Regions from separate parts of the Homo sapiens genome. Here region 1 is linked to region 2. The links come from fine-mapping of genetic effects on gene expression. A gene starts in region 2. The other region holds a variant in brackets. All regions are shown on one strand. Distances are between the middles of the regions.

Region 1 (13,143 bases), 55 kb before region 2:
GATATAAATGCAAGGAAAGGCTTGATGTGCATATCAGTGGAACATCTGTGCCACTTCTCTTTCCTGCACCCATGGCAGACATCACTAATCATCACAAAACCTTTCCCCATTGAGCTGGAGCATGGCTAAACATGGCTCTCTACAAAGCCACTTCCAGTTGATAGAGTCGGCATTCTGATTTTAACCAACTCGCCATCCTGTTCTCTGAACCATCCAAGTGAAGATAATAAGGGTTGGGAGAGATAATGAATGAAATGAGATTCTCAACTAGATTGTAAGTTCCTTGCGGGCAAGGGCAAGTTCTGTCTCATTCACTTGTCTGTCTCCAGTATACACAGGAGAGACCCAATAAACATTTGTGGAATGAATGAAGAGCCTCCCATGTGGTCTCCCTGAGATGCACACTCCCCACCTGACTCCCTAAAATTGGAATGGACTCCAATTCATAGCTTTCCATCTGGACTAATGCTGGATAGAGTGATCCTGGGAAAGGAGAGATTTGAAAGAGCAAAGATGATATAGTGAGCTCTGCTCTCAGATGTAAAAGGGGAATGCAGGACTGATGTTTTCCATTATTCCTGAAAGAGTGATAATGGCTATGAGAGAGAGCTTTGAAAGAATCTGGTACCTGTGTCACTTCTCCATGTTAATTTTTTTTTTATTATCCCCTTCCTGGTTCCCTGTGGGCTTTAGGAATTTTTTTTTTTTTTTTTTTTTTTTGAGATGGAGTCTCACTCTGTTGCCCGGGCTGGAGTGCAGTAGCACGATCTCAGCTCGCTGCAACCTCCACCTCCCGGATTCAAGCGATTCTCCTGCCTCAGCCTCCCCGAGTAGGCACCCGCCACTACGCTCAGTTAATTTTTTGTATTTTTAGTAGAGACGGGGTTTCATCATGTTGGCCAGGCTGGTCTCAATCTCTTGTGATCCACATGCCTTGGCCTCCCAAAGTGCTGGGATTACAGGTGTGAGCCACCGCACCCGGCTGGAATGTTTAGGCTATCATTTATTGAGTGCTGTGTTCCATCAGCTTTGTAAACATTGACCCACTAGATGATCACAATAGGTTGGTTCTCTTTTTAACCATTTCGCAGAAATCGAGGCACAGAGAGGTTAATTACATGCCTATGATGGCCAGCTAGAGGGCGACTAAGTTCAGGTTCATACCTAGGCCAGTGTGCCTCCAAAGCTGGTCTTTGTAAAGCCCTTCAAACAGAGAGATTCTGCGTGCTTGTGCTTGGTGGCCACAGGGTGGGAGGAGATTGTGCTCTGTCTCCCTGCCAAGGTTGAAGACTCTGGGGGAGGGAGTGGCAATGGGAGAAGCTAAGGGAAGGTGTCTTCCCTGAGACCTTAGGGAAGGCGGAAACAAGTCCCGTGAAATTGGCCTGGATAGGAAACAGGTCCTCAGTCTACAACTCTGCGAAACCCCTGAGGACAGAGGCCCAGCTCAGAGGCCCAGGTGAGTCTAGCCTGGTCCGCTGCCCACAATCCCCTAATCTCCTGCTACACCATCGCCTAGTTATCTACCCCAACATTTGGGTGGCCAGATTTAGCAAATTACAGGATGGCCAGGTAACTTTGCAATTCAAATAACAACAAATTTTTTTTCAGTATAAGTATGGCATATTTGGGACAAATACTAAAAAATTATTTGTTGTTTATCTGAAATTCATATTTAATTGGGTGTCTTGTATTTTATGTAGCAATTCTATCTACCATCCTTGGCCACCTCCCACACCATCCCCTGGTCTGCTGCCTTGCTATTCCCAGTGGAAATTCCTGGCCCCACGTAGACCAAATTGCTGTGTCACATTCCCTACCCAGAGCTGCCCAGTGATCTTTACCCAGCTTAGTTTCTCCAGGAGCCCTCCTCGAAGCAAACAGTTGCATCCCTGAGGACAGGACCGTGAGCATCCTGCCCCAAGTCACTCAGATCCTCCTGGGGGTATTAGGTTCAGGCTCCCTGTGGTGGTGGTGGTGGTGGTGCGGGGGCTTCTGGATAGCAAGGTAAAGAAGCTAATGAGACAAGAAACCTTGCCTCATAATTTGGAAAACTTCATCACTTCCCTGGCTCTGGGCCAAAGCAATCATTTTAAGGTGCTTGGAGCGGGGAAGGGGGACTGAGAGGAGGGTGGTTTGCTGTGGGTTTCTCCTCCCAGACTTGCCAGCTGCAGACAGGATATGGTTAATGAGCTGTGGAAGCAGAATTCACCCAGGAAATGATGTGGGGCCACCCTACACCTGTTTCCAAAGGCTGTGGAGCTCCAGGCTTGGAATGAGTGAAATCTGAAATCTTACTACCTATTTGGGGGCTCCCACTCCTCTCTTCAGACATAAATACAGAGATGGGAAAGGACTTGACAGGAACCCATGGACTGAGGAAGATAGCAATGGGGGCGGGAAGGGGGAAGGGGAATTAGAGGAGCTGTGCTTTCTTTATCTGACTCCCCACATATGTAAAAACACACACACACACACACACACACACACACACACATACTGCACTTACAGCTCAGGAGCTGGGGAGCTGAGCTCTCATGCCTATTCTGTGGCTCATGGTGAGCCAGTTGCTTCCCTTGTCTAGGCCTCAGTTTGCTCATCTATAAATTTTAGGAGAAGGGCTAGAATCTCTCCGGCCCAGCCTGCAGAGGTCCAGGAATTTGGTATCCCCACCTAAGTATGATCTCTCTGAGAGCAGGGACTTGGCTTCAATCTCATGGATGACTGATCACTCAGAACCCAGCCAGCCTCAGGGAGAGTCCAGCAATGCTGGCTTCTGCTGCTGCTGCTGTCCCTAGACCTGAAGACTGGCCACAAAACCAGAGGCATTTCCCAATGTGTGAGCCGGGGCCTTCCCAGGCTGCGCTGGCAGAGGCTGCAGGGGAACCAGGAGCCTAAATTCCCAAGCAGGCAAATTACCCACTGAGCACCCTGCACCCTAGTGCCTAGGGACCAGTCCAGGAGACAGGGCAGAGGAGGACACATCTGCCAGGTGGCTCCCAGGGTCCCACCCCCGAGTCATTCTCATACTCAGTGCCACTGTTAATGCCTTCCGCTTTAGCTTAATTAAGCCATCTGCCCACATTAAATGGTAAATTATCTCAATCACTCCCTGGATCCCAGAGGGGAGAAAGAGATGAAAGGAAAATGTCATCCCTTGAGTGGAGCTGGAGGACTCTGCCCCACCTGTGATGACTTCTCCCTCAGTGAGAGACAGCCTCCAGTGTTTACAAATCCTTCTGTGTCCTTGAAAATCTAACTCCACCTGTCATCTCTCTGCTTCTTTCTCTTCCTATAGGGAGGAGCGAGGCTCTTACATGTCTGACCATGGGTAGGAAAAAAGATGAGAGCTTTTCTGTTTTTCCTCTACCTTAGGGGTGCTTGAGTGTCTGTAATGTTGCTCTCTTCCAATAAGCCTGTTATTTTTGCACCCCTGTCAGCTCTCAGTTCTGCTGAGGAAGCACTGTGCTCCCACTGAAGTGACCTGTGAACACCACTCTGCTCTGCAGGCATGTGGCCAGAGGCTGGAGGATGGAGGGATCTCATTACAGGCATCTGTGGGTAAGTGGGGAGGTGTCTCCCAGGGTAGAAGCACCTTCTTCGAAGGGTTGCTGTGGACCAGGGGATGGCCCTTGCTTGGCTTTGCAGTTCCAGACATTGGATTTATAAGCATGCTCGTAGTTGTTCAGGTTCAAGAACCATTGACTTACAGTCACTAAATCCCTAAGAGACTGATGAACCTGAGTCCAGTAAAAAACTGGGAGACATGACTTAAGAGAGATTGACTCACAGTCACTAAACTTCTAAGAGACTGAGTGTCTTGGTTCATTTTGTGTTGCTATAGCAGAATACCCAAGGCTGAGTAATTTATAAAGAAAAGAGGTATATTTAGCTCATGGTTCTGCAGGCTGGGAGGTTCAAGAAGCATGGTGCTGGCATCTGCTTGGCTTCTGTGTGGGCTTTCTTGCTGCATTAAGACATGGTGGAAGATCAAAGGGGAAGTGGACATGTGCAAAGAGGTAAATTTCAAGGAGTGTCCTGGTTCTATTAAAGCCCACTCTCAAGGGAGCATTCCTGTGAGAACTAGTTCAGTCTCACAGAGAGCAAGCGCTGACTACCACCAACCATTTATGAGAGATCTGTCCCCACCTGTCACCGGGCCCCACTTCCCAACACCGCCACATTGGGGATCAGTTTCAACATGCATTTTGGTGGGGTCAAACTCAAACCATAGCACTAAGGAGCCCACGGTAAATGTAAAATGGTGAGTATTCCTACCAAGTATTCCCTTTTTGGTACCAAGCTTACCCAGAAAACTAATAATCAGAAGATTGCTTACTGAGTTCAGAACAAAGAGACATTAGGTCAGGGGATAGGAAATTGTGATTAACGATGTCTGGTCCAGAGCCACTTGTCTCTCTCAGTGGAAGTGGAGACACACTGACTGGTTGTATTATTTGACTGCCCCTTTTCTGGACGCCTAGCAGACCCAGATCTTCAGTTGCCCTAGGCTTCCTTCAGTCAGACTGGGGACTACTGACTGGGCCCCAGCTCTCTTTAGCTACGTTTAGTCCTGACGACTTTTTTTGGACTTGGGTACTTCCCAGTCTCTTCATTATGCATTTACAAAGCATCATTTAGAGTGGGTCTTTTCTATGAATTGTTAATGCTTAGCTGTTGTACTTTCTTGAAAATGACTGAAGTCCCAGGTTCTGTTAATCTCTTTCTGTAGCTCCCTAGCTACACAGTTATTTTATGAATCATAAGTCATGCCCCCGGATCTCAGACAGACTTCATATGCTATTTCAGGGCACATTGGGCTTCTGCTGAGGCATCACTAAATGGAACCACTTGCTAACTGTGTTACTTTGGGCACAACACTAAGCCTCCATGAGCCTTGGTTTCCTTGGGATAAAATGGGGATATTAATGATGATTTCACAGGGATACAAAGATCAAGGGAAATAGTCAAGTGTTATATCTTGATCATGTATCAAAATGGGCTGTGACCTCCTTACAGTGACTGTCATCAGTCAGAAGCCTCAAGGGATGCTTTCCCAGACAGAAATAGTCTTGTGAATATGCTTAATTTGTTTATTCACAAAACATTTATCAAGCACCTACTGTGTGACAAGCATGGTACTTGCAGTGAGAGAATAAATTTTCTTAAATGCTGAAATAATTACTTTACCGTGAGAGGTGAGGGTAGTACATTGACAACTAATATTGGGAACTTATTGTGTGCCAGAGAGGAAACTGATTGCAGGTATCATTTTATTGAAGTCACACAATAGTCAAATGAGGTAGACACTTTTACTACTCCCATTTTGCAGATTAGCACACTGAGCTAATCAAATTCTTTAAGGTCAGACAGCTTGTATATGGTATAATTAGAACCCCGATCTGAGTGGCTGCAAAGATCATGCTCTCAACTAAACTCCAGAGAGGGATAGATTACAAGTGCAAAATCAAGATTGGTACAGATTAGACCCTCTTGCACTGTGTGTGTGATTTTCTTGCATGGTTATTAAATGTAATGTGTTGTATTCAAACATGACTGTGAGTTTAAGGCTACAATGTTTGGGTGAGTAAAAGGAGTATCTCCTTCAATAGGGTGAATAGTGATGAAAGAGCCCATAATGGAGACAAAGAGGATTCTCAGACTAGAATTCAGGAAGCAGAGGGAATGCCCCACGTAGGTGTGGCCTCCTGGAAAGTTAAGTGCAAAGGCAGCATCCACCACTTTGAGGTAAGCAGCAATCAGGAAGTGGGAAAGGGGCAGTGGGCCAGGGAGACCTGCCATCTCTCTTAATAAGATCCCAGACCTCCAAAACCAGCATATAAGGGGACCTGGGCCTCACTGCGTCCAACCCAGGGATTCATACTCCCCTCAGGGATGTTCTGACAATGACTGCTGCCTCTCTCATTGGGCTTCACGTCTAAAGGTCCAGCCCTTCTGTCTAAGGGACAAAAGATTGTCTTTAAAGCCTATTGCTGAGTGGGCAGGGTGTCTTGAAGTCATGTTCTATGGTCATATTCTATTGCCTGCATTTATTTTTTCTCTGTTATTCCTAAGCCTTTAGTCAAGTCTCATGTAACTGGCCCAGCCTGATTTCACCAGACAAAAGGAAAGGTCTTGTGTTCAGGCTCTAATTGGAGCATTAAAAAGATTGCAGGCTCCCTTCAGCTTTGTGGAGAGAATGTATTCCAGGTTAGAGTGTCCTCTGCATCCTCATCAGGAGATATGCTGGAATGGCCTTGTCACCACAAGACTGCCACGAAGCTTGTGAAGTTCACGGAATCACTTTAAGGCCCCAACCCACCCTCGGGCCCCAGCAGCTGATGCCCTTGCTCTCAGATTCCCATCATGGTTCCAGGTGGTGACTATTACCCAGTACCATACGTTCCAGACTGTGCCCATCTCAGGAGCCAGCTTGACAAACTCATCCCTAGAGTTTGTCAAGAATGCAGAG[C/G]CTTGAGCCTACTCCAGACCTCCTGAATCAGAATCTGCATGTTAACAGAGGCCAGATGATTCAGAAGCACATGGAAGTTTGAGATGCACAGATCCAGGGCAGGAGCTCTTAATCTGGGCCCATGAGCTCAATGGGGGAAAAATAGTATTACGTCTTTATTTTTTTATTTTTATTTTTATTTTTGAGACGGAGTCTCGCTCTGCAAATTTATTCTCTCACTGCAAGTACCATGCTTGTCACACAGTAGGTGCTTGATAAATGTTTTGTGAATAAACAAATTAAGCATATTCACAAGACTATTTCTGTCTGGGAAAGCATCCCTTGAGGCTTCTGACTGATGATAGTCACTGTAAGGAGGTCACAGCCCATTTTGATACATGAACAAGATATAACACTTGACTATTTCCCTTGATCTTTGTATCCCTGTGAAATCATCATTAATATCCCCATTTTATCCCAAGGAAACCAAGGAGTGCAGCGGTGTGATCTCGGCTCACAGCAACCTCCGCCTCCTGGGTTCAAGTGATTCTCCTGTCTCAGCCTCCCAAGTAGCTGGGACTACAGACACACGCCACCATGCCCAGCTAATTTTTTTATTTTTAGTAGAGACGGCGTTTCACCATGCTGGCCAGGATGATCTTGATCTCCTGACTTCATGATCTGCCCGCCTTGGCTTCCCAAAGTGCTGGGATTACAGGCGTGAGCCACCGCGCCCGCCCACATCTTTATTTTTATCAATCACTAACCAAACATTAGGATTTCCTTCCATTTTGGATGTAGCTTGCAAATCACAGACGTATTCACGATACTTTTGACTTTGTCACCGATAGAAATCATGGATATTTTTGTAACACATTACAGTTGTTTTAGACATCTCAAAATAGCATATATATTCACCACTACTTCAAAATAACAATAGCTATTAGATATGAAGTTATATTATGCTATATAATAGCAACCAAACTTATTATATCACAAAATTTGAAAAATATTTTTGATAAGGATTTCAAAGGACATGACTTCCCTTATTATCCCATGTGTTTTACTTTCTGCATTAGAAACTTTATTCTGAGAAGGGCTCACCAAGTTGCTGAGGGATCCATTACACTAAAAAGGCAAAGAACCTCTGCTCTAAGAATCACAGCAGGGCCGGAATAGTGTTTGGAGAATTTCAGACATGTGGGGTGAGCATTACTTAATCTGGAAAGCCCCAGAAGTCACATGTCCCCGCAGATAGGCAGCCTTCAGAGCAGACCTGACTGGCAGCTAGAGGTCTGCTTCAATGGCTTCTTCATTCTCCCTTCATTAAAAAGTAGGTTTGATAAGGCCCATGCTAAGGAATAAAACCAAGATTCCAAGTAGGGAAGATTGCTCTTGTCAGCCCAGCAAGAAAATCAGCGACCCAACTGAAAGAATATCAAAGATTATTCCTTTTATCAGCCCCTGTAGCCCCTGTCAATTTCCCCGCAGTAATCCACAGAAAAACACTTAAAAGGAAAATCACCTGTGTGCCTGTCTTTAGGGGCAGAAAGGAAGGAGCCAGTAGGGACACCAGCTGCCTTTGCAGCCGGAGGGGTGAGGAGAGTCCTGGGGAATGAGAGTGGGTGGTGATAGCTTTAAAAAGAAGATCCTGGCTGGGAGCGGTGGCTCATGCCTGTAATCCCAGCATTCTGGGAGGCTGAGGCGGGTGGATCACCTGAGGTCAGGAGATCGAGACTAGCCTGGCCAACATGGTGAAACCCCATCTCTACTAAAAGTAAAAAAATTAGCCAAATGTGGTGGCACACCTGTAATCCCAGCTCCTGGGAGGCTGAGGCAGGAGAATCACTTGAACCCAGGAGGTGGAGGTTGCAGTGAGCCGAGATAGCGCCACTGCACTGCACTCCAGCCTGGGTGACAGAGCAAGACTCCATCTCAAAAAAAAAACAAAAACAAAAAAGAAAAGAAATCCCTTTACACTAGGCATAAGGAAAATATAAATAAATAAAAATAAAAAGAAGATCCCATGGTAGGGGAGCAGCATCCCTAGACCTGAGGGAATGGTGGGGGTGTCTGGGTGAGATGTGACCCTGAGGCCAACAGCAGGCCTGAGCTGGTTGGTCCCCAGAATTCTCTTGAGGAGAGGGAAGCGGCCACCCCTGAAAAAAGCTCCTCTGGCAAGAGTGTAATGGAAGGGATAGCAAGATCAGGGGTCAGTGCTTCTCCCTGGCTCCTCAGCTGGAGGCAGGGTGGGTACAATGAGCCATTCCAGGAGCTGGGATGGACCAATAGCCCTGTGCTCTTTGGGGGCCTTGAAAACATGGTCCTATAGGGCTCCTGGCAAGATGCTTTGGGCCAACAATGGGGCTCTCTAGGGTAAGACTAACCTCGCGCTGTCCTTTATGAATAATGATAATAACTTCACAAACTGTTTAATATTTTAGACTTTTCAAAGTTGCCTTAAGGCAACCTGATATGGTAGTGGAAAGGGACCAAAACTGAAATCTACTTCTGCCCATGAAAAAGAAAATAAAGAAAGCCATAGCCAAATTTCTTTGGCCCTCTTGAGCTTCAGTTCTTTCCATCTGAAAGGTGGGGATAATAATAGCTGAGGAACCTGCTCAGTGATTTGTGTGCAGATCAAATGGCGCATGGGCACGAAAGATGAGGGCTTTGCCATGGAAGTGGAAGGTCCTGTTTCATCTGAGCACTGTCACCTCCTGTATGAGTTTCCTAGTGCTGCTGTAATAAAGTGCCACAGTCAGTGGCTTAAACCACAGGAATGTATTGGCTCGCTGTTCTGGAGGCTGCAAGTCCAAGACCAAGGCATTAGCAGGGTTGGTTCCTTCTGAGGGCTGTGCTTCTTCCTTTGCTTCTAGTGGTGGGCTGGCAACTGTAGGAGTTTCTCAGCAAGTAGAGGCATCACCCTGATCTCTGCCTTCATCTTCACATAGTGTTCTTCTTGGTAGGGTGTCTGTGTCCAATTTCTCCTTTTTATAAGGACACCAATCATACTGGAGTAGGGGCCTACCCAAATATAATAAGACCTTATCTCAACTAATTACATCGCAACAACCCCATTTCCAAACAAGGCCATAGAATGAGGGAGGGGTGGGACTTCAAAATTTGAGTTTGGGGCCAACACAATTCAGCCCATTACACTCTGTTAGCCCATTGATGCTCCTTGGCCGTGGGGAGCCCAGAACACACAGGTCAGGTACAGAGGATGGAGCAGGGTGGAGAAGTTCCAACTCTTCTAGGCAGATTCTGCTCTCAGATGAATTGAGGTCTTCCACCACTTCTTTTATTAAGCACTTAAACTTTATTAAACATCTACATTATGCCAGATATAGAGAATATAAAATGAATAAATTATTGTCCTTAACTTCAAGGGAAAAGAGAGACAGACATGTAAACAAATCATTGCAAGGCAGCATGATTCACACAATAAGAGATTTATGTGGCAAAAAAGACAGAGTCCAGGACAGGATTGTCAAGGAAGGCTCCTAGGAGGTGGTAACATTGGAACTAAATATTGAAGACAACTAGGGATTTTCCAGGCAGGCAAAAGGCAGAGACATTTCAACTAGACTGAAAGCACCACAGCACAGAAGTGTAAGAGCCTGGCTTGAGTAATAGTTTGGCTGGGCTAGAGATGGGAGCAATGGGAGACAGAAGTCAGAGGTAGGTTAGGGCCAGGTTAAGGGGGTTATCCACCACCCTAAAGAATGTAAACTTTAGAATGGAAATCCTATAGGACCGCCATGGAAAACTTTCTATGCTGTAAGTTCTGAAAAGTCAATGATCTCATTGGTTGTGGGAGATGAGGCCAGAGTACTAACATAGCAGACACTCAATATATATGCAACAAACACATGAATGAATGAAAGAGTGAATGAATGAATGGTTTTAAGCAGAAGAGTGGTATGAGAGTCATAAGAGTAGGGTGCATATGGAAGCAGATAAACACAGTCAGGATAATTTGCTGTATACCAGGCAAGTGCTGTGAGGGCCTGAATAGCCTCCAAGAAGAGCAGAAACACATGGCCTTCAATGGGATGGGAAAGGGGGGAAAAGGTGAAACTAATGGTACATCTGTAGGGGTCTTAAGATGGGATTTTTTTTTTTTTTTTTGAGACAGGGTCTCACTCTGTTGCCCAGGCTGGGGTGCAGTGACACGATCTTGGCTCACTGCAACCTCTGCCTCCTGGCTCAAGCAATCCTCACACCTCAGCCTCCTGACTAGCTGGGACCACAGGTGCGCCAAGAATACAAAAATTAGCCACCATGCCCAGCTAATTTTTGTATTCTTTGTAGAGATGGGGTTTCACCATGTCACTCAGGCTGGTCTCAAACTCCTGGGCTCAAGGGATCCTCCTGCCTTGGCCTCCCAAATTGCTGGGATTATAGGTATGAGCCACTGTGCCTGGCCTTAAGGTTTGAATTTGGAGGAGTTCCTGCCCCAGACCTCAGCCATCTCTGGGGTGCTACTTCCCGAGGGAAAAGAAAGAAGAGGCTGTAGGAGGCACTCTTGCTGAGAAGCACTGAAACCAGCAAAGAGCAGGAGGAGCCAAGAACAGAGCTCAGCTGCCCCAAGGCCAAAAGGAAGATAGATGCCCAACTGTGGGCCTGAGCTAAGCTTGGGGAATTTGGAACGCAATAGAAGGAAAAATGGGGCTACAGCGGGTTGAATAGTGTCTCCCCAAAATTCATGTCTACCCAGAACCTTGAAATGTGACCTCATTTGGAAACAGGGTCTTTGCAGATGTGAAATGAGATCATACTGAATTAGGGTGGGTCCTAAATCCAATGATAGGTGTCATTATAAGAGACAGGAAAGGACACAGACACACAGGGAGGAAGGCCATGTGAAGAAGGAAGCAGAGATTGGAGCTGTGCTGCCACAAGCCAAGGAAGGCCAGGAGCCACCAGCAGCGGGAACAGGTAAGGAAGAGTTCTCCCCCAGTGCCGTCACAGAGAGCATGGCCCCACCAACACCTTCATTTTGGACTTTTGGCTTCTGGAACTATGAGAGAATACATTTCCCATTGTTTTAAGCCCTTGAACTTGTGGTACTTTGTTATGGCAGCCCCAGAAAACTAACACAGAGTCAGAATACAAGGGGCTGGTGAAGGTTAGGTCAAATGGTCAACCATTGAGTAGGGACCCAGGCAGGAAAGGAAGGGACATCAGGAGGAACTGGTAGACTCAGAGAGGTCTAGGGCTGAAGGTCTTGAGGAAGAATGACAGGTTTGGGGAAAAGCTGAATGAACAGATTTATATCCTGAGGGTGGTATATTTAAAATTAAGATTTTAGAGGTGTCTGTTGGACAAGAAGTTGTAAAAAAAAAAAAAAAAAGATTTCAGAGATGGAACAGTTCCAGGTGACTATAGGTGTAATCAGATTAATCTCTTTTTTAGTGGAGAAAAGCTGCCTGACAACAGATTTACCCAGCCTGGCAAGACAATTTATCCTCCTTGGAATCTGCGCTTTAAATCCAAGGACTAAAGAAGAGCCTATGTTCTTCTGAGAAATTACTATTAGCTCCCTTCATGTCGAGGCATTTCAGACACTGCCTGGGAGTTTTGTGTTTTAGGAAGGTCATAGGGGTGGGGGACAAGGTCTCAAATCTCAGCCTGTGGGTGAGTCTTCCCAGGCCTGGCCCAGGCTTTCAGAGAAAGGCACCCCCCAGAGGCTTTCAGAAAGGTGTGCTTGTCTGGAGACCCCTGGGACATTAGATGGCAGAGAAAATAAAACCCACCAAAATGGCAAGGCAAAGCTGGGCCATTTGAGGAAATTCAGAAGGAAAAACTCCAAACAGAATCTGAAGGTAATAAAGTGACAACTCTACTGCAAGCCAGAGAAATTCTCAGAGTTGCCCTGGGGCCAGGAATTACTCAATTAAATAGCAAAAGCCCAGAGGGAAATGGAGAAACAGTACCTCTTCCTCCTTTACCTGAAGCTCTGCTCCCCCTATTCCCTTCACCCCATATGCCCTCTGCTAGCAGCTTCTCCCCGCAGGCCCTACCCTTAGACCAGTCTGCCATCACATCCCAGCTGTCAGTACATTCCTCCTTTCCCACTAGGACACGAACACTGATGGATCTTCTCTCCTCCTGCTCCTCTCTGGCCCTGGTCCAGGCTGTTTTCTATCACTTTCTCTCGGGAGCTTTCTAGCTGAGCTTTCCTATCACTTTCCCCTGGGGCGGGGGAGGGTCTCATTTCCACCTTCTCAAGATATTGTCTCCTATTATATATTTATTTTTTCTTTTTTAGCTATCTCCTGCGGAGAGGGTGGTCTCCTACTATTTAAACAGAAAAGAGTGTTTGTTTTGAGGGAGAGTGGACAGGCAATAAGGAAGTTACATTTCTTTCCTTACACAGTGCCTGAGCCAAGAGGACTCTGGCCCTAGTATCCACGTGACCAGAGCATCCTCAAGCCTGCCTCGTCAGCCCCTGCACTGTCCCCCAAAGGTCCTTGCATTTGCCAGCCCAAGACTGTCAGGGGCATAACCCTCTGACCATATCCTCACACTCTCTACCTTTAGCTCATTCTCCTCTCCCTGTGGCATCCTGGGCACCACTTCTTCCTCTCTCTCTCCCTAGCCCTTTCTCCAAATCCCCCAAGTGGGAGGGATAGGTTGGGAGCAGAAGGCTGTTTAGCTTTTACAAGCCCGGTGCAAGGATCTGCTAA
Region 2 (9,827 bases):
AACCATGGGTCACTTTTATCCACTTTTACACATGTGCCCTCTCTAAAGCACACATGTAAACAGAGGATAAAACCTAACTTGGTTGGGTGCAGTGGCTCACATCTGTAATCCCAGTGCTTTGGGGAGGCTGAGATAGGAGGATCACTTGAGGCCAGTAGTTTGAGATAAGCCTGGGCAACATGGCTAGACCCCATTGCTACAAAAAATTAAAAAATTAGCTTAGTGTGGTGGTGTGTGCCTGTGGTCCTAGCTACATGGAAGGCTGAATCGGGAGGATTGCTTGAGCCCAGGAATTTGAGGTTGCAGTGAGTTATGACTGCACCATTACACTCCAGCCTGGGTGACAGAGCAAGTCCCTGTCTCTAAAACAAAAACAAAAACAAAACAAAACAACAAAAAAGAAAAAACAAAAAAAATAAAAAACTCACTAAGCAGCTTTATGCTTTAAAGCAGGGGTTCCCAGACCCCAGGCTGTGGACCAGTAATGGTCAGTTGCCTGTTAGGACCTGGCTGCACAGCAGGTGAGGGGCAGGGGAGGGAGCATTACTGCCTGAGCTCTGCCTCCTGACAGATCAGCAGAGGCATTTGATTCTCAGAGGAGGGCTAACCCTATTGTGAATGGAGTATGTGAGGGATGTGGGTTGTGTGTTCCTTATGATAATCTAATGCCTGATGATCTGAGGTGGAACAGTTCCATGAAGCTGGTCCCTGATGCCAAAAAGTTTGGGGACCACTGCTTTAAAGAACACAAAGGATTTTCAGGTAGTATCTGCTGGAAGCCAGGGGAGGGGGTAATTTTGGGGGCAATAACACAAAGGAAATGAAAACAATCACTTATTTTAACTACAGCATGGATCCAACTTATTCATTTGTTGTGGAAACACACACACACACACACACACATACACATCACAGGCAATATTTTGGCTGTTACTCTTAATGGAATCTAGGCCTTTTCCATCTAACCATAAAACTTACTAGCACTCTTGGCTCCAGGCAGATTTCCAGTCCCCCTAGGCAAGCCTTTGTACTATAGCCAGCTGCAGGCAGTAGCTTCCATCAAGCTCCCTGGTATTTGAAGTGGCAAGCCACTAAACTTGGCATGCCTCTGGTGCATGTTCACACAGACTGGGTGTCTGTTTATCTCCCTGAATTATTTCTCTCAAATCTTGTGCTCCCTCAACCCCTATCTTGAAGTTTGGAAAACTACTGATTTGGTCATTATCTTTTTCTTTGATCAGTGAGTCACCTTAGCAGGTCTATTTAGGTTAAAAAGTCACTCTGGTGCCTGGTTTATTATCTCGATTGGTTATTACATTGAGTAATCAGATAATGGCTTAACTTCAATTTCCATTTGTGGTCTATTAATATAACCTTGAAACAGATTTAAACCCAGCTATAACTTTTTATTTCATGCTTTTACAAATAATGTGTTCATGTGTTTTTTATCCTCCAGCATCCAGATTTTTATCTTTAAATACCATCTCCCACTAAAAGGAACCAGAGCTCTCTGGAGAAATGGCTGATTCCACAACTGGGGCAGGAAATGTATCAGGTAAGTCTGGAAGAAAATAATGGAGAAAAGAAGAGTGGGAAGAGTGATGCAGATGAAACAAGATTGACATGATTTGATAATTGCTGAAATAGGGTGTTGGGTACACATGGGAGTTCTTTAAAGTATTCTTTTATATATTTTAAACTTTTTCCATAAAAATAGTTTAAGGAAAGTTAAAAATGTTATTTTTTAAACTGAAGGAGTAATAGCGCCCTTTGTAGAAACAAAAGATTTCTACAAAGAAAAGTAAAGTCTCCCTCCTACTCCAGACCCTCGCACACCTCTTCAGGGCAATCCTAGTAACAATTTCCCGTGTATTTGTCAAGAAAGTTTCCATGAAAATATATTTTTTAAATGTACATACTCATAAATACAAACATTTTTAAAACCACAAATGGTAGCGTATTATACACATTATTTTATGCCTTATGAAGTTTTATTTCCCATTTTAATACAATGAAGATGTCTACACATTACAATATTGTGGATTTTTATGCTTTACAATTGAGCTTCTTCCTTCGAGTTTCTTTGATCTAATCAAGAGATAGAAGGCCTCCAGCTTCACATTCCTCACGATTATTTACAAAAAGAAGGATGGCTCAGCCAAGGCTAAATTTAGGTTACAGTCCCTAATCTTAACACAGTTTTTAAGTTTAGGTTTCAGCTTTTGGGATATTATTGTTACCTTGAAAAATGTCACGTTTAAAAACACCTCACACCCTCTACTATAGATTGGATCTTGGGAAATAGGGTTGAGGACCGGATCAATACAAGAATCCTCATAACCTCCGCCCCGGCGCGAACCTGGGAGGGCTGCAGACAGTCTAAAGGCTGTGGTGACCTCAGCGCTGCGTCCCTCCAGCAACCGGCGAGTGCTGGGGCACAGGCCATACCCCCCTAAGCTCGGCATCGCCTGCACCTCTCACAGGTGCTCTGTCCGCCACAGTAACGCACTATGGAAAGGAAAGTTGTACGGCGAACGACTGAAGGAGCCAAACGAGGTGGATCTGGAGCGGCCGCAAGGTGCCTGTGCTGCTGGCTTTTAACACACAATAAGAGTGCCAAGGGATACAAGAAGCCACAGGGGGAAAAACAAGTGACATATCTGCATGGAGCCTAAATTTCGCTTGGTGATTTTCAGGGTAGAAGCATTACATATTAAAAACACTGCTATTTTAGGGGAATACAGAATTTAAAAATCCACACAGATTCGCAACATAAAACATGCCGCCCAAAGACACGTCCGCGGTGTCCCGACAGTTCCGGCTCCGCCCGCGGGCCACGAGGCGGGGAGCGACGGTCACTCCCCTCGGTTACCCGGAGTACTTGGGCGGGAACGGGTAGCTCGCGGGAGAGACGGGCTCCTGGGCGAGGGCTGCGTCTTAGTCGCCCTGCTTCTTAGCTCTCGAGGTCCCGCGTGTTACGTGTTAGCACCGCCCGGGGGCGTCAGCATGACCCGAGGCTGCAGGAACCGTGAACTCTCTGCCCCGCGGGCCCAGGTGACCGCGGGCGGCGCTCTCCCGCGCGCGGGGGGCGGGGCTCCCCCCGGCTGTTCACTCAGCTACCACAGCGACGTAAAATGGTGTCCGCTAGGCGTCCCAGGACGGCTTCCTGAGGGACTGGAGGGCCCCGACAGCCGGAAAGCCTGCCCCGCCCCTTGGCCGGCACAGGTACGACGGCGGGGAGCTCAGAAGTTTCGAACTCCAAGGGCCGAAGCACAGCCAAACACCCCACGGAACTTAACAAATGTTTGTGGGGAGAACGCCGAAAACGCGGGGAGGCGGGGCTGGCGCACAGTCACCCTCTCGCGACATCTAAGTGACGTCGCACAGCAAGCACGTGTTCTAGTCTTTCACCTTCAGTCAGCCTCCTCCGTTATACAGGCCTACCCCTTTAAGCGAGTGATGGACAGTTATTTCAGCCTATCAACTTCCTTGCCGACATCCAATCAGATTTAAACTTCTTTTAGCCGCCGGAGGAGTTGGAAAAAGGGGGTCGAAAGAGGGAGCTTACCGTCTCTCGCGATATCGCTGTGAGCCTGCCTCTCTGGAAAAAACGCCGAAACTGATGGCCCGACCTCCCAAATAGTGGTTTAAAGGACGGGTTTATAAGCCAATGAAAGGGATAAGGAGGTGGGTTGCTGCTGTCACTGAGCAAGAAGTACCGTTACAGGGCAGACTTTTTGTCCAATCAACACCTCAACACTTTGGGTCACGTGACCGCAGAGTGCGAGGGGCGGAGCTACAGTCTGGCGCGAGGAACCGTTAAGATAGACAACAAATGTAACCAATGAGGTACTCCGACTAGGGGGTTGGGAACCCAATAACAGTGGTTGGGCGGGCGCCTTCCTGGAGCGCGGGGAGATGTAAAGATAGACAAATAATTTTCCCAATGAGACTGTAGAAGAGAGAGCAATTGGCCAATGAGGACTGCGGGGCGGGACCCTGTGCCGCGGCGGAGTCCAAGATGGCGGCGTGCGGTTCCGCTGTGTGAAACGAGCGCGGGGCGGCGGGTTACTCAGCTCCGCGGAGACGACCTCCGACGACCCGCAACAATGAAGGGAAAAGAGCGCTCGCCAGTGAAGGCCAAACGCTCCCGTGGTGGTGAGGACTCGACTTCCCGCGGTGAGCGGAGCAAGAAGTTAGGGGGCTCTGGTGGCAGCAATGGGAGCAGCAGCGGAAAGACCGATAGCGGCGGTGGGTCGCGGCGGAGTCTCCACCTGGACAAGTCCAGCAGTCGAGGTGGCAGCCGCGAGTATGATACCGGTGGGGGCAGCTCCAGTAGCCGCTTGCATAGTTATAGCTCCCCGAGCACCAAAAATTCTTCGGGCGGGGGCGAATCGCGCAGCAGCTCCCGGGGTGGAGGCGGGGAGTCACGTTCCTCTGGGGCCGCCTCCTCAGCTCCCGGCGGCGGGGACGGCGCGGAATACAAGACTCTGAAGATAAGCGAGTTGGGGTCCCAGCTTAGTGACGAAGCGGTGGAGGACGGCCTGTTTCATGAGTTCAAACGCTTCGGTGATGTAAGTGTGAAAATCAGTCATCTGTCGGGTTCTGGCAGCGGGGATGAGCGGGTAGCCTTTGTGAACTTCCGGCGGCCAGAGGACGCGCGGGCGGCCAAGCATGCCAGAGGCCGCCTGGTGCTCTATGACCGGCCTCTGAAGATAGAAGCTGTGTATGTGAGCCGGCGCCGCAGCCGCTCCCCTTTAGACAAAGATACTTATCCTCCATCAGCCAGTGTGGTCGGGGCCTCTGTAGGTGGTCACCGGCACCCCCCTGGAGGTGGTGGAGGCCAGAGATCACTTTCCCCTGGTGGCGCTGCTTTGGGATACAGAGACTACCGGCTGCAGCAGTTGGCTCTTGGCCGCCTGCCCCCTCCACCTCCGCCACCATTGCCTCGAGACCTGGAGAGAGAAAGAGACTACCCGTTCTATGAGAGAGTGCGCCCTGCATACAGTCTTGAGCCAAGGGTGGGAGCTGGAGCAGGTGCTGCTCCTTTCAGAGAAGTGGATGAGATTTCACCCGAGGATGATCAGCGAGCTAACCGGACGCTCTTCTTGGGCAACCTAGACATCACTGTAACGGAGAGTGATTTAAGAAGGGCGTTTGATCGCTTTGGAGTCATCACAGAAGTAGATATCAAGAGGCCTTCTCGCGGCCAGACTAGTACTTACGGCTTTCTCAAATTTGAGAACTTAGATATGTCTCACCGGGCCAAATTAGCAATGTCTGGCAAAATTATAATTCGGAATCCTATCAAAATTGGTTATGGTAAAGCTACACCCACCACCCGCCTCTGGGTGGGAGGCCTGGGACCTTGGGTTCCTCTTGCTGCCCTGGCACGAGAATTTGATCGATTTGGCACCATACGCACCATAGACTACCGAAAAGGTGATAGTTGGGCATATATCCAGTATGAAAGCCTGGATGCAGCGCATGCTGCCTGGACCCATATGCGGGGCTTCCCACTTGGTGGCCCAGATCGACGCCTTAGAGTAGACTTTGCCGACACCGAACATCGTTACCAGCAGCAGTATCTGCAGCCTCTGCCCTTGACTCATTATGAGCTGGTGACAGATGCTTTTGGACATCGGGCACCAGACCCTTTGAGGGGTGCTCGGGATAGGACACCACCCTTACTATACAGAGATCGTGATAGGGACCTTTATCCTGACTCTGATTGGGTGCCACCCCCACCCCCAGTCCGAGAACGCAGCACTCGGACTGCAGCTACTTCTGTGCCTGCTTACGAGCCACTGGATAGCCTAGATCGCAGGCGGGATGGTTGGTCCTTGGACCGGGACAGAGGTGATCGAGATCTGCCCAGCAGCAGAGACCAGCCTAGGAAGCGAAGGCTGCCTGAGGAGAGTGGAGGACGTCATCTGGATAGGTCTCCTGAGAGTGACCGCCCACGAAAACGTCACTGCGCTCCTTCTCCTGACCGCAGTCCAGAATTGAGCAGTAGCCGGGATCGTTACAACAGCGACAATGATCGATCTTCCCGTCTTCTCTTGGAAAGGCCCTCTCCAATCAGAGACAGACGAGGTAGTTTGGAGAAGAGCCAGGGTGACAAGCGAGACCGTAAAAACTCTGCATCAGCTGAACGAGATAGGAAGCACCGGACAACTGCTCCCACTGAGGGAAAAAGCCCTCTGAAAAAAGAAGACCGCTCTGATGGGAGTGCACCTAGCACCAGCACTGCTTCCTCCAAGCTGAAGTCCCCGTCCCAGAAACAGGATGGGGGGACAGCCCCTGTGGCATCAGCCTCTCCCAAACTCTGTTTGGCCTGGCAGGGCATGCTTCTACTGAAGAACAGCAACTTTCCTTCCAACATGCATCTGTTGCAGGGTGACCTCCAAGTGGCTAGTAGTCTTCTTGTGGAGGGTTCAACTGGAGGCAAAGTGGCCCAGCTCAAGATCACTCAGCGTCTCCGTTTGGACCAGCCCAAGTTGGATGAAGTAACTCGACGCATCAAAGTAGCAGGGCCCAATGGTTATGCCATTCTTTTGGCTGTGCCTGGAAGTTCTGACAGCCGGTCCTCCTCTTCCTCAGCTGCATCAGACACTGCCACTTCTACTCAGAGGCCACTTAGGAACCTTGTGTCCTATTTAAAGCAAAAGCAGGCAGCCGGGGTGATCAGCCTCCCTGTGGGGGGCAACAAAGACAAGGAAAACACCGGGGTCCTTCATGCCTTCCCACCTTGTGAGTTCTCCCAGCAGTTCCTGGATTCCCCTGCCAAGGCACTGGCCAAATCTGAAGAAGATTACCTGGTCATGATCATTGTCCGTGGTGCGTCCTAAAGTCCATGTGTAACTTGTATTTACTACTTTGACATGGTTCCTGTTTTGTGATGTGTAATGGGATACAGCATCAGATGCAATTTTCTTTTTAGTTGTTAGTTGTAGCATTTTCTTTTTTATATTTTTATAAACGTCTTTAAAATAGAAATCAGGACAGTTTAGCTATTTTTTTGTTTGTTTAGCTATTATTTTAAGTGAAAGGGATGCCCTAAAGGTAGCAGGCAGGCAGACAGATTTGCTTTAATTAGGAGTTCCCACCCTTATGAGTAATTTTTTTTCTCTATTCAGTTGTTTTTTTTTTAATCTTGAGCTTAAAAAATCCTCAGAGTTACAAAACCAAAATTTTGAAAAGTCAGAATTTGGAGAAAGGAGTCCACTGACCATATAAAGAGAGTAATAGCCACCTAAAAATGACTCGATTGGTGTGTAGGTAAATAATTCTTTTACCAGAAATGTGTGTGACTGAAATTTGATCAGGGATCTCAAAGATATGCTGGTAAATTGTATAGCAATGTAATTATTTTAATCAGGTATTTGAGTATTTCTTAAGATACAGTTTATTCCCAGAGAGTTTGCTTTAACATGCATTTTTTAAATCATTTGTTCTAGAGTTCTGTATCCCATATATGCACTTTTGGTTTGTAGCAGTAACTGTTCAGTAAAAATTAAGGACTATGTTACAAACCATATATGTCTTATGCTTACACTAGTATGCAAGAAGTGAGTAGGTGCTTTTAAAATCAGAATTCTTTGGTCAGTTATTGGTGTGTGGTGGTGTTTTTACTGACTTTTTCAGAGAGGTGTAGCAGGTACAGTTCTAATCGTGCATATTTCGAAACTAAGTGTTCTTCATCAAAGATGAGTTTTTGTTTTTGTATCAATTCAAATTTCTGGTTTCAATAATAGAAAGAAGAGTTGTCTGCAGGCTCATAGTCATCTTTTATTTCAGTGGGCATTTAAATCAGCCATATTTGGATTGCAGAATTTCTTAAAAAGTCATCATAAAATGCCTTTGACATGCTCTTTTAAAATTTTGCTTGTCTTTTTATTTTCATATTTAAACAGTAGTGACATTACATTATTGAAAATGTTTTGAACATCTTGGAAATTTTATGTTCAATATTCTCACTGCTGTCCAGCTACGGAATTGAAATGTCAGTGTAGGAAAACCTTTTTTAATTGTTTTATTTTCCCAGACACCCGGAATTAATACAGGATCATTTAACTTAGCCTCACAGTTTTTTTTTTTTCAAAGGTGAGATGATATCAACCTCTGGTTCTCAACAAGGACTTTTGCTGCTTAACAGTAATGGATTTTTTTTTTTTAATCTATCCCCTCTGTCCCACCCCTAATTTGTCAGGTCATTAGTAAGTATATTTTTCTCCCTTGATTTAAGTGCTGAAGACTTCAGCTAAGGCCCTTGATATTTAATTATGATTAGAGACTTTTGGACCTTCTGGATCATGGTCATGTTTCTGTTCTATGAAAGTGACTTAACTTGAAGCCTGGCAGAACCCAACTGTTTTCTTTCTGTTATCAAAGCTGGTAGTTTTGAAATAGCACCAATAATAACCCAGGGAAATGTCATGTAATTTTTATTTTCCATTATGACAGGTGTCTAATGCATGTCAGCACAAAAGTGTCATCACTGCTGTGTCATCCCTCTTGGTTTTCACTATGCATCTATAATTTTTTAAGTTTGCAGGTTTTGTGGGGGTTTTTGTTTGTTTGTTTTTAAACTGGAAAAACTAGCCATTTTGAGAGAAGGAAGGTTCTAGGCTATGAGCATGAAGGTCCTTGTGCCTCTTGGGAAAATACCTGAAATCCTATAATGAAGACTTTTGATGCTTCTTGCTTTCAAAAAGCTGTGGTTGGTTTGGAGTAGACACCTGTTCAGAAACTAATGCAAGTGTGGAGTCTACATACGTGGGCTCATAGTATAATTTGTGGCCAGCTACATTTTTCCAGTTTAAATAAACTCACTAACCATTAATTTTTGAATATCTTTTGTTGAGATAGTTGGACAAATGATTTTGCTCTTTTGGAGAGTGAAGTCCATGACATCTAATTTTACTGTCATCCAAAATGTGTGTTTTATTTCTTTTCTTTTACTTTCTTTTTTTTTGTTTGTTTTTTGTTTTTTGTTAGTGTGACAGCGTACAGAAGAGTACTGTGTTTTTGCTCCATGTTTGTTTGAATCTTTACCTGACATTGCCGCTTTTGTTAGGTCTGGGCAATTTGTGCTTCAGTGTTTTTGAAACAATGGCTTGATACCATTTCTAAATGTATGTATTATAAAAAACTAATTATGTTTAGTTGGTCATTACCTACAGAGTGCCATAGTCCACATGAACCTCATATTTGTACTGCCCATTCTTTTGTGCAGGTTCATAATATCCATAAAGTATCTAGTTAAACCTTAAGAATTCAAATGAAAGCAAAAGTCTAAAACCGGTTCTACTTCTCATTAGCCAGGATTTAATAATCCCAACGTTGAATGTTCTTTGTAACAACCAATTTTTTTCTATCTTTCTTCTTTAATTATTTTAATGTAGTTGATTTTTCTGGAACTCAGTTAAAATGAATGGAAAGAAAACTTCAGGATATCATTTAATGACTATTAAGTATTATTGGTAAAAACGTGAAGATAAGACTTTTAGATCACAGCTTCAAATTTTATGGAAAATTAAGCAAGCAATACCTAGCCAATAGTTCTGCTTAACTTTTTGGTTAAGTATTTTGTTGGGATTCCTATAAATAATTTTTCACACAAAGTTTTAAATTTCTGGTGTACTTTGACTCTCAACTGAGAGTGGATAGAGTTTTTCTTTTGAGGATTACATCTTAAAATGTCCATCGCCTGGCTGGTTATAAGCATTTGTCACCTTTTGAAGGTAAAATATACTCTGGCCCTTCTTGACTCAGTTACAGGTCATTTTAGGTCCAGTAATAAGAGTCAGGTGTTTGGTTATTGC

Evidence for each region.
Region 1: its variant is fine-mapped to the expression of RBM15-AS1 in whole blood (TOPMed, PIP above 0.99).

The regions. Positions count from the first base shown.
Region 1 is chr1:110,279,097-110,292,239 of GRCh38, forward strand. RBM15-AS1 (RBM15 antisense RNA 1) reads right to left here. Exons shown (of 4, transcript NR_036595.1): 4 at 7,279-9,475. It also overlaps a transcript of KCNC4 not described here. Among named protein-coding and RNA genes, the nearest start is that of RBM15-AS1, 54 kb to the right of the region's middle. RefSeq lists an enhancer at 7,714-7,763. The variant C/G (reference allele first, on the strand shown) is at 6,470.
Region 2 is chr1:110,335,429-110,345,255 of GRCh38, forward strand. It overlaps RBM15-AS1 (RBM15 antisense RNA 1), which reads right to left and starts at 3,743. Exons shown (of 4, transcript NR_036595.1): 1 at 3,569-3,743. RBM15 (RNA binding motif protein 15) reads left to right here and starts at 3,949. Exons shown (of 3, transcript NM_022768.5): 1 at 3,949-6,840. The coding sequence starts at 3,978. It overlaps LOC124904276, which reads left to right. Exons shown (of 1, transcript XM_047437983.1): 1 at 1-3,575. The coding sequence starts at 3,007. The coding sequence ends at 3,513. RefSeq lists enhancers at 2,628-2,817, 3,958-4,257, 4,288-4,407, 4,378-5,116, 4,488-4,937 and 2 more and a silencer at 2,918-3,187.